Linked DNA regions of Homo sapiens: region 2 is linked to region 1. A link means that fine-mapping ties the variant in region 1 to the expression of a gene that starts in the linked region. Tissue or cell type: whole blood. Region 1 holds a variant in brackets; the other region holds the start of a gene. All regions are shown on one strand. Distances are between the middles of the regions.

Region 1 (5,975 bases):
CACAGGGGGTGGAGGAAGGGATTATCTCTAGTACACTACTTGCTGGCTGTCTGAAAAATTGTCACTGCCAAACTCTAAAAACAGTTCTAAATAGTGACTGAGAAGGTTTGTTGCTGGAGTCAGGGAATAAGGCAGCCAAATACTCTTTGCACAGTTCTTTAGTGGGAAGAGAAATTAACAATAAATATCAAGCACTGTGGTAGGCATTTCATCATTGAATCCTCATAGTAGCTTTTGGAGGGCAATGGTGACAGCCTGACTTCAGAAAGGAGGACACTGGAGCTCAAGGTGATTGATTACATAATGTCTCCTTCAATATTATTCAAGTAGAACTCAAACTCAGTTCTGACTTCAAACCTCATCCTCATTCCCCATTCCTGCTTCCTTATCATGCCATATCAAATCCCCAGAGCCATAAGGCCTATGAAAACAAAGTGAAAGGGAAGGTTCAGGCATTCATTCAGAACATTTTAAATGCTAATTGCCATTGATTTATAGGTTCTCTGTCTCTTTCCTGTCTTTAATCTTAGAGCTGTTTCCTCAAGAAAATGAAGAGGGAAGGATGGCTCAGGGAAAGTTAATCAGAGGGAAAATGTCACTCTGTAAAGAGTAAAAAATTTAGGATGATGATACGATCTGGGAAAAAAAGGCATAGTGAAGACCACTTAAAAACAAACAAAAAAAACCTATGAAGGTGCATGCTATTTCCCCAGAGCTAAAAAGATAAGTGAAATTGTGTTTGAACTCTTAAGTGGAGGTGAAGCAGAATTTATTAGCCACCAACCACATAAGTGATTATGAAGTAACTGAGAAACAGGTAACATTTTTTCCCACATGGACAAAACTTTCTCTTTCTAGAATATTAAGTATCTATGATGAGAAATGAAGTAGCATCTCAAGCAGTTTATAAATCTACCAGAATATTAGAATCACCTGGGACCTTTGAACGTACTCATGCCCAGGTCTACTTTATTCATTTATTTTTTTGTAGAGATGGGGACTTCAACTCCTGGTCTCAAATGATCCTCCCACCTCGGCCTCCTAAAGTGTGAGGATTACAGGCGTGAGCCACTGTGGCCAGCCCTACTAGGTCTGCTTTGGACCAATTAAATCAATCTCTGGGGGTGGAGCCTGGGCTTTAGTATTTTTAAAAATTTTCCTAGGTGGTTCTAATTAATAACTAGGATTGAGAACCACTGACTAACACAGTGGAATCTCATTCCTGGCTATATTTGAAGCACTGAAGCCCCCAGTCCTACCCCAGAAAATTCCAAAGAATTGGTATGAGGTGAAATCTTGGCACCAGTGTTTTTAAAAAGCTTCCTTAGTGATTTTATGTGCAGCTGGAGTTGAGAACATAAAAGCAGTAATTCCAAATTTGGGGTGGGAGAAGGTATAAAGGAAGGGGAAGCTCTTCAGATACTCTGCCCAAGCCCTCCTGTTCACTCCAGCAATGCCCAGAATCACTGCTGCTAATGGGAGAAAGGTTGGGATGGAAAGTTACATAGAACAGCCAGGCAGTAAACGAAGAACTTTTTCTAAGGGGGGTTGGAGAAAAGTAGGAAAAGTAGAAATTGCCAAACTTGCTTTTAGAACTATTTATTCTTTTTTTTTAAGTGATGTTTTTTAAACACCAGCATCAATAGGACAGAAGAAGACATCTGTTTTCCAATTAGCTGTGTCAGTAGATTCCATTCATTGTTTGTAGTTCCCAATCAGCTTTAAAAAAAAAAGTTTTTCAAATTTGCATACAAGTCATCTAAAATCAATAACAACTTGATCTAATTTAGAAAAATGAAAGAGTATCGTTCACTAAAGCAGATCTCTTTTGGGTAGATGGACCATCACAAAAGGAGCTCTTACATGCTTTTCCCACTCCCATCCCAAGTCCACCCTCCCACCAATTGTATTGTATAAATCAATAAAAAGCAAAGGTTCCAGAACAACTGAAAGAAAAATAATTCCAAACTAAGCAGAGTGAACTTTCCATTGGGAATGAAGACCCATGGGAAAAGGCAGCCCAGCCCATAACTCCTCCCTGCTGGAACACACACCGTAGGTGTAGGAACTGCCTGGGAA[T/G]CCCATTAGAACACACTGTTTCTCAGGAAGAGAAAAAGCTGCATTACAAGAAAAGTTCTCAGGACTTTAGGAGTTCTTAGGACTGTTATTTCAGAGCTATTTATTACTGTTATTACAGAGCTCTTGTTATTTCAGAGCTACTGTAGCCCTTGGGCACAACCAACAGAAAGAGGCAAAGACTGCTGTTTCCTTTGATGAGGGGAAAGAGGTCCAGTCCCTTCCAAATGCCCCAGGACATGGCACAGTAGGGATGTCATCCAGCCCAGTTCTGGATCTGCACCATTTGAGGTTATAGTATCTTCATCTTTGGGACACAATTGCTGTTAGCTGAAATTGTGATTTTCTTAAGTTTTTTCACAGATCAATTAAAATGGTTTTTTTTTTTTTTTTTTTTTTTTGAGACAGTTTTGCTCTTGTTGTCCAGGCTGGAGTGCAATGGCGCGATCTTGGCTCACTGCAACCTCTGCCTCACAGGTTCAAGCGATTCTTCTGTCTCAGCCTCCTGAGTAGCTGGGATTACAGGCGCATGCCACCATGCCCAGCTAATTTTTGTATTTTTAGTAGAGACGGGGTTTCATCATATTGGTCAGGCTGGGCTCGAACTCCTGACCTCAGGTGATCCACCTGCCTCAGCCTCCCAAAGTCCTGGGATTACAGACGTGAGCCACCATGGCTGGCCTAAAATGCTTTCTAGAAGGGATTCTTCTGGACCGTTAACCACGTCCCCAAAGGAAAACCACACACACATTATTTAAGTACTTTCCATCTTCCTAGAGAAATTTAGTTACACTGTTGACTCCTTCCCTAAAGGGGAGGATTGAGGGAGACCTCTTCTTTTGCAAAATGCAATATAAAAAGCCAGGTAAGCAATAAACAGAAAACAAAAGTGAGGGATTTTTTTTGTTGGGTTGTTTGGTTTGGGAAGGGGAGGTGCTATGGAGGTTATTGTTGTGACATGTTGCTTCGAAATCTATAAACCACACAACAGGAACAACTGTTTTTCTGTTTTCTGTGACAAGGAGTACTGCAGGGACAACCTCACCCAGAGCTGCCTGCACGATGGTGCAAACATCTTCTCCGGCTATTCTAAAAGTAACAGGTATTCCTTCAAAGAAGCTGGCAGTGGAAGGCCCTTCACTGCATCGGGGAGATACTGGAGTCCCAGGCTACGGCGCACGGCATAGCGAGCGAGTGTTTTTAGAGTTCCTGGAGCTGAGCACAGAACAGTCAGTTTTTCACATAGCTGCGGGTCTCTGGCCACCTCTCGTGGCATGGTGCCATTTTTCCTCAATTCAAAGTGTCCAACAGCTCTGTGGAGGAGCTCAAAGCAAGAGTCCTCTTTCTCTGTTCCAAGTCCCCTGACTAGCAGAGCCACCAGGCGGGAGATGGGTGTCTGGCCTATTAGGTTGATGACTCTGACCTCTGCGCCATAATCCAGAAGGATGCTGACACTCTCAAGATTTCCCTTCATGGCAGCCCAGCTGAGCGGTGTATCATTGTTGTAATCCAGGGCATTGACAGAGGCCCCGCTCTCTAGGAGAGCCCGCACACACTCAGCATTGTTCTTAAAGGCTGCCCAGTGAAGTGGGGTATCTCTGTTGCCATCCAAAGCATTGGGGTTTGCACCATACTCCAATAGGACCTCCACACAAGCCTCATCTTTCTCTGCTGCATAGTGGAGGGCTGTTCGGTTATACCCATCCAGGGCATTCACCTGTAAAAAGGGAGGAACTATTACAGTAGACAGACTACTGAGAGGAAGACAGGACAGCAGCAAAGAAGCTTGCATGGTTACCCACTACCTTTGCTATGCAGTGCTCTGAACAGGAGGGTCAGCAAGCAACTCCCAGGGAGTCCTGGTGATAAAGATGAAGATATGACAGGAGCTTAGGAGCAAAAAGGAAAAGAACTGTCCTCAAACAGTCAACACTATTATGTGCACTGACTAGCTGGTCTGCATTATTTTGGTTTTTGCTGCAATGTTCTTTTATCTATTCATTAGAATCTCTACCACAGAGTAAGGGGTAAGGCAGGAATAGAGGAAGTCTAAGTCCCCGTAACTGCTCTGAAACATTACTGGAAAGCTGCTTGACTATACAGAGTTTTGGATTATTTTACTTACCCTGACCCTTTCTGTACCCTGTGGCTAATGTAGCAACCAAACTGAAAAACATAGCTTTTGCTAAGTTCTTTAACCATACAGAGAAATTCAAAATGTTAGAATATAAGTCAGACCTTTGCAAAAATATGCTGTGGGTTCACAAGAGAACCCAAATGAAAGCATGTGATAGGAAGAGCACAAATCTCCCAGTGCTGGAAAAGCAGCTGGCTTGCTGACAGTCAGCATCACCTGTAGTTTTTTTCTTCAAATTTCCAAATAGCATATACCCTCATTAATGAAAGACAAAAACAAAAAAAAACCCTGAAACATTTAAGTAAATTCAACCTTTTATTTGGCTAAAACCTATCTTAAGTACCACTTCTTAAGTACTTTAAGTACTTTTAAGGGTACTTTAGATTTAATCAGAGTTGAGGGATCTCTGCATTTATATCTCCTGGATAGACAATAAGCAATGAGAAGATTAAACGGAAATATAAACAGCCCCTACAAGGTAAGCTTCCTGAAGTGATGGCCAGTGACAGCTTAAGTTAAGGAGAAGAAAGAAAGGCAGAGTATCAGCACCATACAATGGGGGCAAGCAGGGTGGGGACAGAAAGGTAAAAGAATGAAATCCTTAGATCATTTTATATATTTACCATTACATTTTCCTTAATATTGGCTATGCCAACATTACCTTGAGTTAGAAGTTCAGACTGGAGGAGGGAAGAGATGGAGGAGTGATGGGGAGAAATTCTAAGAAAACATGAAGCTCAAGTTTTAGTGAGTCATTAATGTGAATGTGTTAAAAACATTACCTCGGCTCCTTTTTCCAGAAGTAACTCCACACAGTCAGCATCTGACACCATACAGGCACAGTGCAAGGGCTTCAGTGTGCCATGAGTGCAGTTCACATCTGCTCCCTGTGGGCAGAAGACAACTTCAGTCAGTGTGTTCAGCTCTGGCTTGCCCAGCAGGACAGAATTCAGAACTGAGTCCAGGGGACAGAGAGTTCTAACTCTCACTATTTTATAGATACAGTGCTAGTTCCTGTTTCCTTTTCTATTAATATTATGTCAATGTCCAAACCAAAGGAGTACACTGAAGATGAAGGAAAGGAACTGTTAATTCCTTAGATCAAGTTACTAAGTTTCTCCACAAGGGAGGCTGCCAGATGGTCACCTGGACATCACTGAAGACAATCTTATGTATCAAAGCACTGGAAACCTTATCATCAGGCAGGAAAGCTGGACCAGCAATCCACTTTCTATGGCCACCATGCTCTGGAAAAGTAGGAAAGTGAGTCTGTCAGACTGAGGCCAGAAATGGCATGCTCTTTTGTCCATTCAACAAATGACCATCATTAATAGTGGCATCATCTTAACACGGTTTTTCCTTTTTTATAAACATCTTCAAAGTAGCCTCTTAGTATCAGTATTCTTTACCATCTAGCCTTTGCTGGTGCTTCTATTCAAAATCAAAGGAGAGGCCGAGTACAGTGGCTCACACCTGTAATCCCAGCACTTTGGGAGGCTGAGGTGGGCAGATCACCTGAGGTCAGAAGTTTGAGACCATCCTGGCCGACATGGTGAAACCCGGTCTCTACTGAAAATACAAAAACTAGCTGGGTGTGGTGGCGGGCATCTGTAATCCCCGCTACTCGGGAGGCTGAGGCAGGAGAATCGCTTGAACCTGGGAGGCGGAGGTTGCAGTGAGCCAAGATCGCGCCATTGCACTCCAGCCTGGGCGACGAGCGAAACTCCGTCTCAAAAAAAAAAAAAAAATCAAGGGAGATGGA
Region 2 (5,175 bases), 30 kb before region 1:
TGTTATAGCATCATACCGAATCATTTTAGTGCCCCTAAAATCCCCTGTGCTCCACCTATTAATCTCTCCTTCTCTATCCCAAGCCCCAGTAACAACTGATATTTTTATTGTCTCCGTAGTTTTACCTTTTCCAGACTGTCATACAGTTGGAATCATACAGTATGCAGCCTTTTCACACTGGCCCGTTTCACTATGTCTTTTCCTGGCTTGATAATTTTTTATTGATGGAAAATATTCCATTGTATAGCTGTATCACAGTTTGTTTATTCACCTTTTGAGGGACATCTTGGTTGCCTCCAGCTTTTGGCAATTATGAATAAAGCTTTTATAAACATTCATGTGCAGGTTTTTTGTGCAGACATAATTTTCAGCTCATTCAGCTAAATACTTAGGAGTGCTATTGCTGGATCATGTGGTAAGACAATATTTAGCTTTGTAAAAAACTGTCAAACTGTCTTCTACAGTGACTGTACCATTGTGCATTCCCACCAGCAATTAATGAGAGTTCCAGTGGTTCCACATTCTCATTAGCATTTGGATTTTTGAATTTTAATCATTTAATCATTCTAATAGGTGTGTAGTGGTGTCTCACTGTTTTAATTTGCAGTTCGCTAATGACATATGATGTTGACATCTTTTCATGTTTATTTGCCACCTGTATATCTTCTTTGGTCAACTCTTTTGCCCATTTTTAAATTGAGGTATTTTCTTTTTATTGTCACTGAAAAGAGTCAAACTGTAAAACATTTGAAGAGATTTATCCTGAGCCAAATACGAGTGACCAATAGCTCCCCCATGACACAGCCCTCAGGAGATCCTGAGAACATGTGTTCAAGATGGTCGGGCCACAAGTTGGTTTTATAAATTTTAGGGAGATATAAGGTATCAATGAATATATGTAAGATGTACATTCATTTAGTCCAGAAAGGCGGGATAACTGGAAGCAGGGAGGGGGGAGCGGGGCTTCCAGGTCATAGGTAGATTCAAAGATTTTCTGATTGGAAATTGGTGAAAAGAGTTAAGTTATTGTCCAAAGACTTAATAGAAAAGCAATCTGTGAGGACCAAGGTTTTATCAGGTGGACAAAGCTTCCAGGTAGCAGGTTTCAGAGAATAGATTGTAAATGTTTCTTATCAGACTTAAAGAGTCTGTTCTATCAGTAATTCCAAAAGGGAGGAGCATATAATGAAGTGTGTCTGGCTTCCCCTTTCCATCAACGTCTGAACTAGTTTTTCAGATTAACTTTGGAATACCCTTGACTGAGAGGAGGGGTCTATTCAGATGGTTGAGGGGCTTATAATTTTATTTTTGGTTTACATTCTTAATGAGTTGCAAATGAGTTCTTTATTTATTCTGGATGCCAGCCCCTTATCAGATACATGATTTGCAAATATTTTCTCCCATTCTGTGGGTTGTCTTTCCACTTTCTTGATGGTATAATTTGGAGAACAAATGCTTTTATTTTGTGTAGTCAAATGGGGTTTTATCTCCTAGTCACTTGCATTTGTATTGTTTGTGCCAGAATGTGCAGAGGTAGAGATACAAGTAAGCAAGAGGAAGAGGGCAGTGGTAAAAGCAAGAGGAGACCCGACTGTGGAGACAATGAAGCAAAGGGAAGGTGAGACTTGAGTAATGGATGCACCTCTTGCTCTGGGAGCATCTGACCCTTTTTCCAGAGTGGATCCTGTTTGCTGTGAAGCCCAATTTATATGTTTGCTTCACTGCCAGAATCCCGCCCCCATCCCTCCCCACTGCAGGCTTGAGAAGTGGCCTCACAGACACGCCCTTCCCTCTTGACACTTTCATTCCAAATAGCTAGCTTTTCTGTACTTTCTCTGAGAAAGGTAATGTAAATGTAAAAGAAGTTTTTGAGGCTATTCTATAGAAGATGTCATAATTCAATGTTCCTCAAAGGCAGGGACTATATTTATTTTTTTTAAACCTCTCGGCACCTAATGCAAAATCTAGCACACAGACTCCCAAGAAATGTTTGCTTAAAGACGGATAGAGGGCCACAGGGGCAGGTTTTATTAGCAGTTGCTGAAGATGTTGGAATGCAAGGTGTCTCAGGCAGTCTGGACTAGGAAAAAGTTCTGTGTTGAAAACAAGAGAAGCAACGAAATAATTTATTATTCCCATTAAATAAAGATGCTGATGGCTCTCGAGATAGATATGAGGACCCCAGGACTCTGGGGAGTGAAGGAACTAAGCCGCTGCCATATCTGAGCTGAGTACTTAGGGGGAGGAGGAAGAGGAGGAGAAAGGCAAGCAGGAGGAGGCGGAGCCTTCTTGTCAGCATCTGTTAGTGGAGGTTGGGAAGCCTCTCCTCCTTCCCCCTCCCTCTTTGCCTCCACCTGGCTCCTCCCCATGTTCGTCCATCACCCCTCCCCCCTTTCCCAAGGACAATCTGCAAGAAAGCAGCGGCGGAGGAGAGCTAAGACTAAAAGGCAAGAGGGGCCATTGAGTGAAGAGCAAGGGGGAGAGCTGGGAGTGAGGTGGGAAGGTATGGGCCGGGAGCAGGCGGTAGGGAGAACTGAAAGGAGCAGAAAGGAAAAGAAGAGATACGGCATCCTAAGCTGGAGCCGAGAGGGGGATGGGCAGGGCAGTCGTGAAGGATCCTAGCCCCTTGGCCAGTCCCCTCCGCTTGCAGGCTCAGCTGCATTCCCCAGGAATCTGGGATGGGTGGGTGGGGCTCGGACGGGTTGCCCTTGGCTGCCTGACCCTACCCTGGCACTCACCCAATTCAAATCAGTGCTCCTATGATGCTGCTTTTCTGTTCCTCCCTGCCGCGTGCTTATATACGCACGTGATTTTAGAGATATGTTTTAATATCTGTCTGTTTTTGTCTACGTGCGTGTCATTGTGGGTCTGTAAGGGATGCTTATACATGAGTCTGCATGAATTTCTGTGTCCTGTGCCTCTATAACTGTCTTAGAGATTTCAGGAGAAGAATATGAGCGGTTTTTACAGGTCAGCACTCTTAAACTCCTCTTGTTATGGCGAATTTTCTCCCTCACTGACGCTTCCAGGGGTGGAAGAGCTCTGTGTGGGATTCTGCCCCCGTCATGAGCTCCAAGAGTGAATGAGAAGAAAAAACGGGAGGAAAGGGATCAGCATACCCAGATGTCTTGTTTTTTCCTTTCCACCTTTTTGCCTTCCTATTTGCCCTAGTCACTTAATCTTTCTTTTTGGAAAACAGCAGAAATTTGGACATGAACATTCCAGTTAAATAAGAGCGTCTCTAGTCACGCGTGTCTCTATGTTCCTTTCACTGTTTGTCACTATATGATTTCTCAAGTCCAAGTTAAAAGTGTGTTTTAAAGTAGAATATGGAGGTATATCTGTATCTAAGCCGATTTTACATTTTTCATATATTTGTATTTCATGTAGTTCATCAGTTCATTAACGTTTTCAACAAGTATTTATTGGGGTCCTGTAATGTGCATAGACTTTGCAAGTCTTTAGTGAGCTGTGGGAGAGTTTTTAAAAATGATCATGATCCCTGCCCTGGAGGAGTTCTCAGTCTAGTTAGGAAAAATGACTTTAGCAGCCATCCAGTCCAGTGGTTGGCAAACTTCGTCTGTAAAAGACCAGATAGTAAATATTTTAAACTGCAGGCTTATGAGTCTCTGTCACAATATCCATTCTGCTGTTGTAGCACAAAAACATCCATGATAATACGTGAATGAACGAAGGTAGTGCACATACTGAAATTTGAACTTAACATTTTTCACATGTCATGAAGTACTTTTTGCAACCACTAAAAAATATAAAAACCTTTCACAGCTTACTGCCATACAAAAATGTGAGAAGGGCTGGATTTGGCCTACAGGCTGTTGTATGCTGACCCCTGATCTAGTCCAACCCTCTTATCAGTGCGTACGAAACTATTAAAATGCCACATAAAGCAGGCCGAGCATGGTGGTTTATGCCTGTTATCCCAGCACTTTGGGAGGCAAGGTGGGCGGATCACCTGAAGTCAGGAGTTCAAGACCAGCTTGACCGACATGGTGAAAACCCGTCTCAATTAAAAATACAAAAATTAGCCGGGTGTGGTGGTGCATGTCTGTAATCCCAGCTACTCGGGAGGCTGAGGCAGGAGAATCACTTGAACCTGGGAGGCAGTGATCCAGTTTAGACAACATGTGGTTAGAGGAAGTCCAAAAGAAGGTTTCCTTGACCTGTGGTAATCAGTGAAGGTTTAATAAGGGTACAACTATCACTGGTCTTAAATGATGGAATGGGATGTGAATCTGTGGAAAGGGCCAGGGTAGCCACCTGGACAAGGGATGCAGTGTGCCCAGGCACTAAAGTGGGAAGAGCAAAGTAATGTTCAGGTGACAATGGAGCAGAGAATCTATAGGACCAACAGTTGAAGCTATATGCAAGGGCTAAATTGTAGAAGCTTCGAATGCCAACCCAACAAGTTGGGACCTTATTTGTTAGTACTGATTATATGTAGTACGTTCATTAATCTCTGTCTGTTAACACAATGCATGTTTGTGAATGTATGTCTTCATATATGTCTCATTGCATTATTTTATTATTTGTGTGGATTTGGGTGTTTATGTGACTTATGTCTCTATAGGCAGCTACCCTGAGTTCTCCAAATGCAGGGTAGAAGCAAGCACAAGCTGCCCGTAAAACTTGGGTTCCTGTGAATGAATACACATCTCCACTGAAGCCTAGGGACCTATGACCTTCCTATGAAGGTTTATTTTGTGTGTCTAATAGAGTGAAGAAAGGAACACAAGCACAGGGAAACCAGCTATTGTAGTAAGCAGTTCAGGTGGAAAATGGCAATGAGGATAGAAAGGAGGGGATGGATAAAGGAAGATAATAAGAAGGGAGAATAATAGGATTTAGTTACTGTTTTGAATCTGAGAGGAAGGGAGGAGATAAATTTAAAATAACAGGTTTTAGCCTGAAAAACTGGGAGAGTGATAATTCTACTGGCATTTTATGGATACAAAAATACGTCCTCTTGTGTGTTCCTTTGAGAGAGGTGATCCCTAAAGAATAAAATATGAAGGTGTTCCCATGTCGTATGTACACATCTGTGTATATACGGCAGTGACTTTGTGTTAATTTTCTCATTTCATAGCATGTAGTAATGTGAGGGGCAAGACCCAAAGACCAAGGATCAAGAGATGCTCAGGAGGCTGACATCCTGAG

What was found. PIP is the estimated chance that this variant, and not a neighbour inherited with it, causes the effect.
Region 2: PFKM starts here. The variant in region 1 is fine-mapped to the expression of PFKM in whole blood (TOPMed, PIP above 0.99).

The regions. Positions count from the first base shown.
Region 1 is chr12:48,146,206-48,152,180 of GRCh38, forward strand. PFKM (phosphofructokinase, muscle) reads left to right here. Exons shown (of 23, transcript NM_000289.6): 23 at 1-199. ASB8 (ankyrin repeat and SOCS box containing 8) reads right to left here. Exons shown (of 4, transcript NM_024095.5): 3 at 4,996-5,100; 4 at 1,584-3,793. The coding sequence ends at 3,161. Among named protein-coding and RNA genes, the nearest start is that of ASB8, 8.3 kb to the right of the region's middle. The variant T/G (reference allele first, on the strand shown) is at 2,080.
Region 2 is chr12:48,116,960-48,122,134 of GRCh38, forward strand. It overlaps PFKM (phosphofructokinase, muscle), which reads left to right and starts at 2,405. Exons shown (of 23, transcript NM_000289.6): 1 at 2,405-2,447. RefSeq lists an enhancer at 2,001-2,070.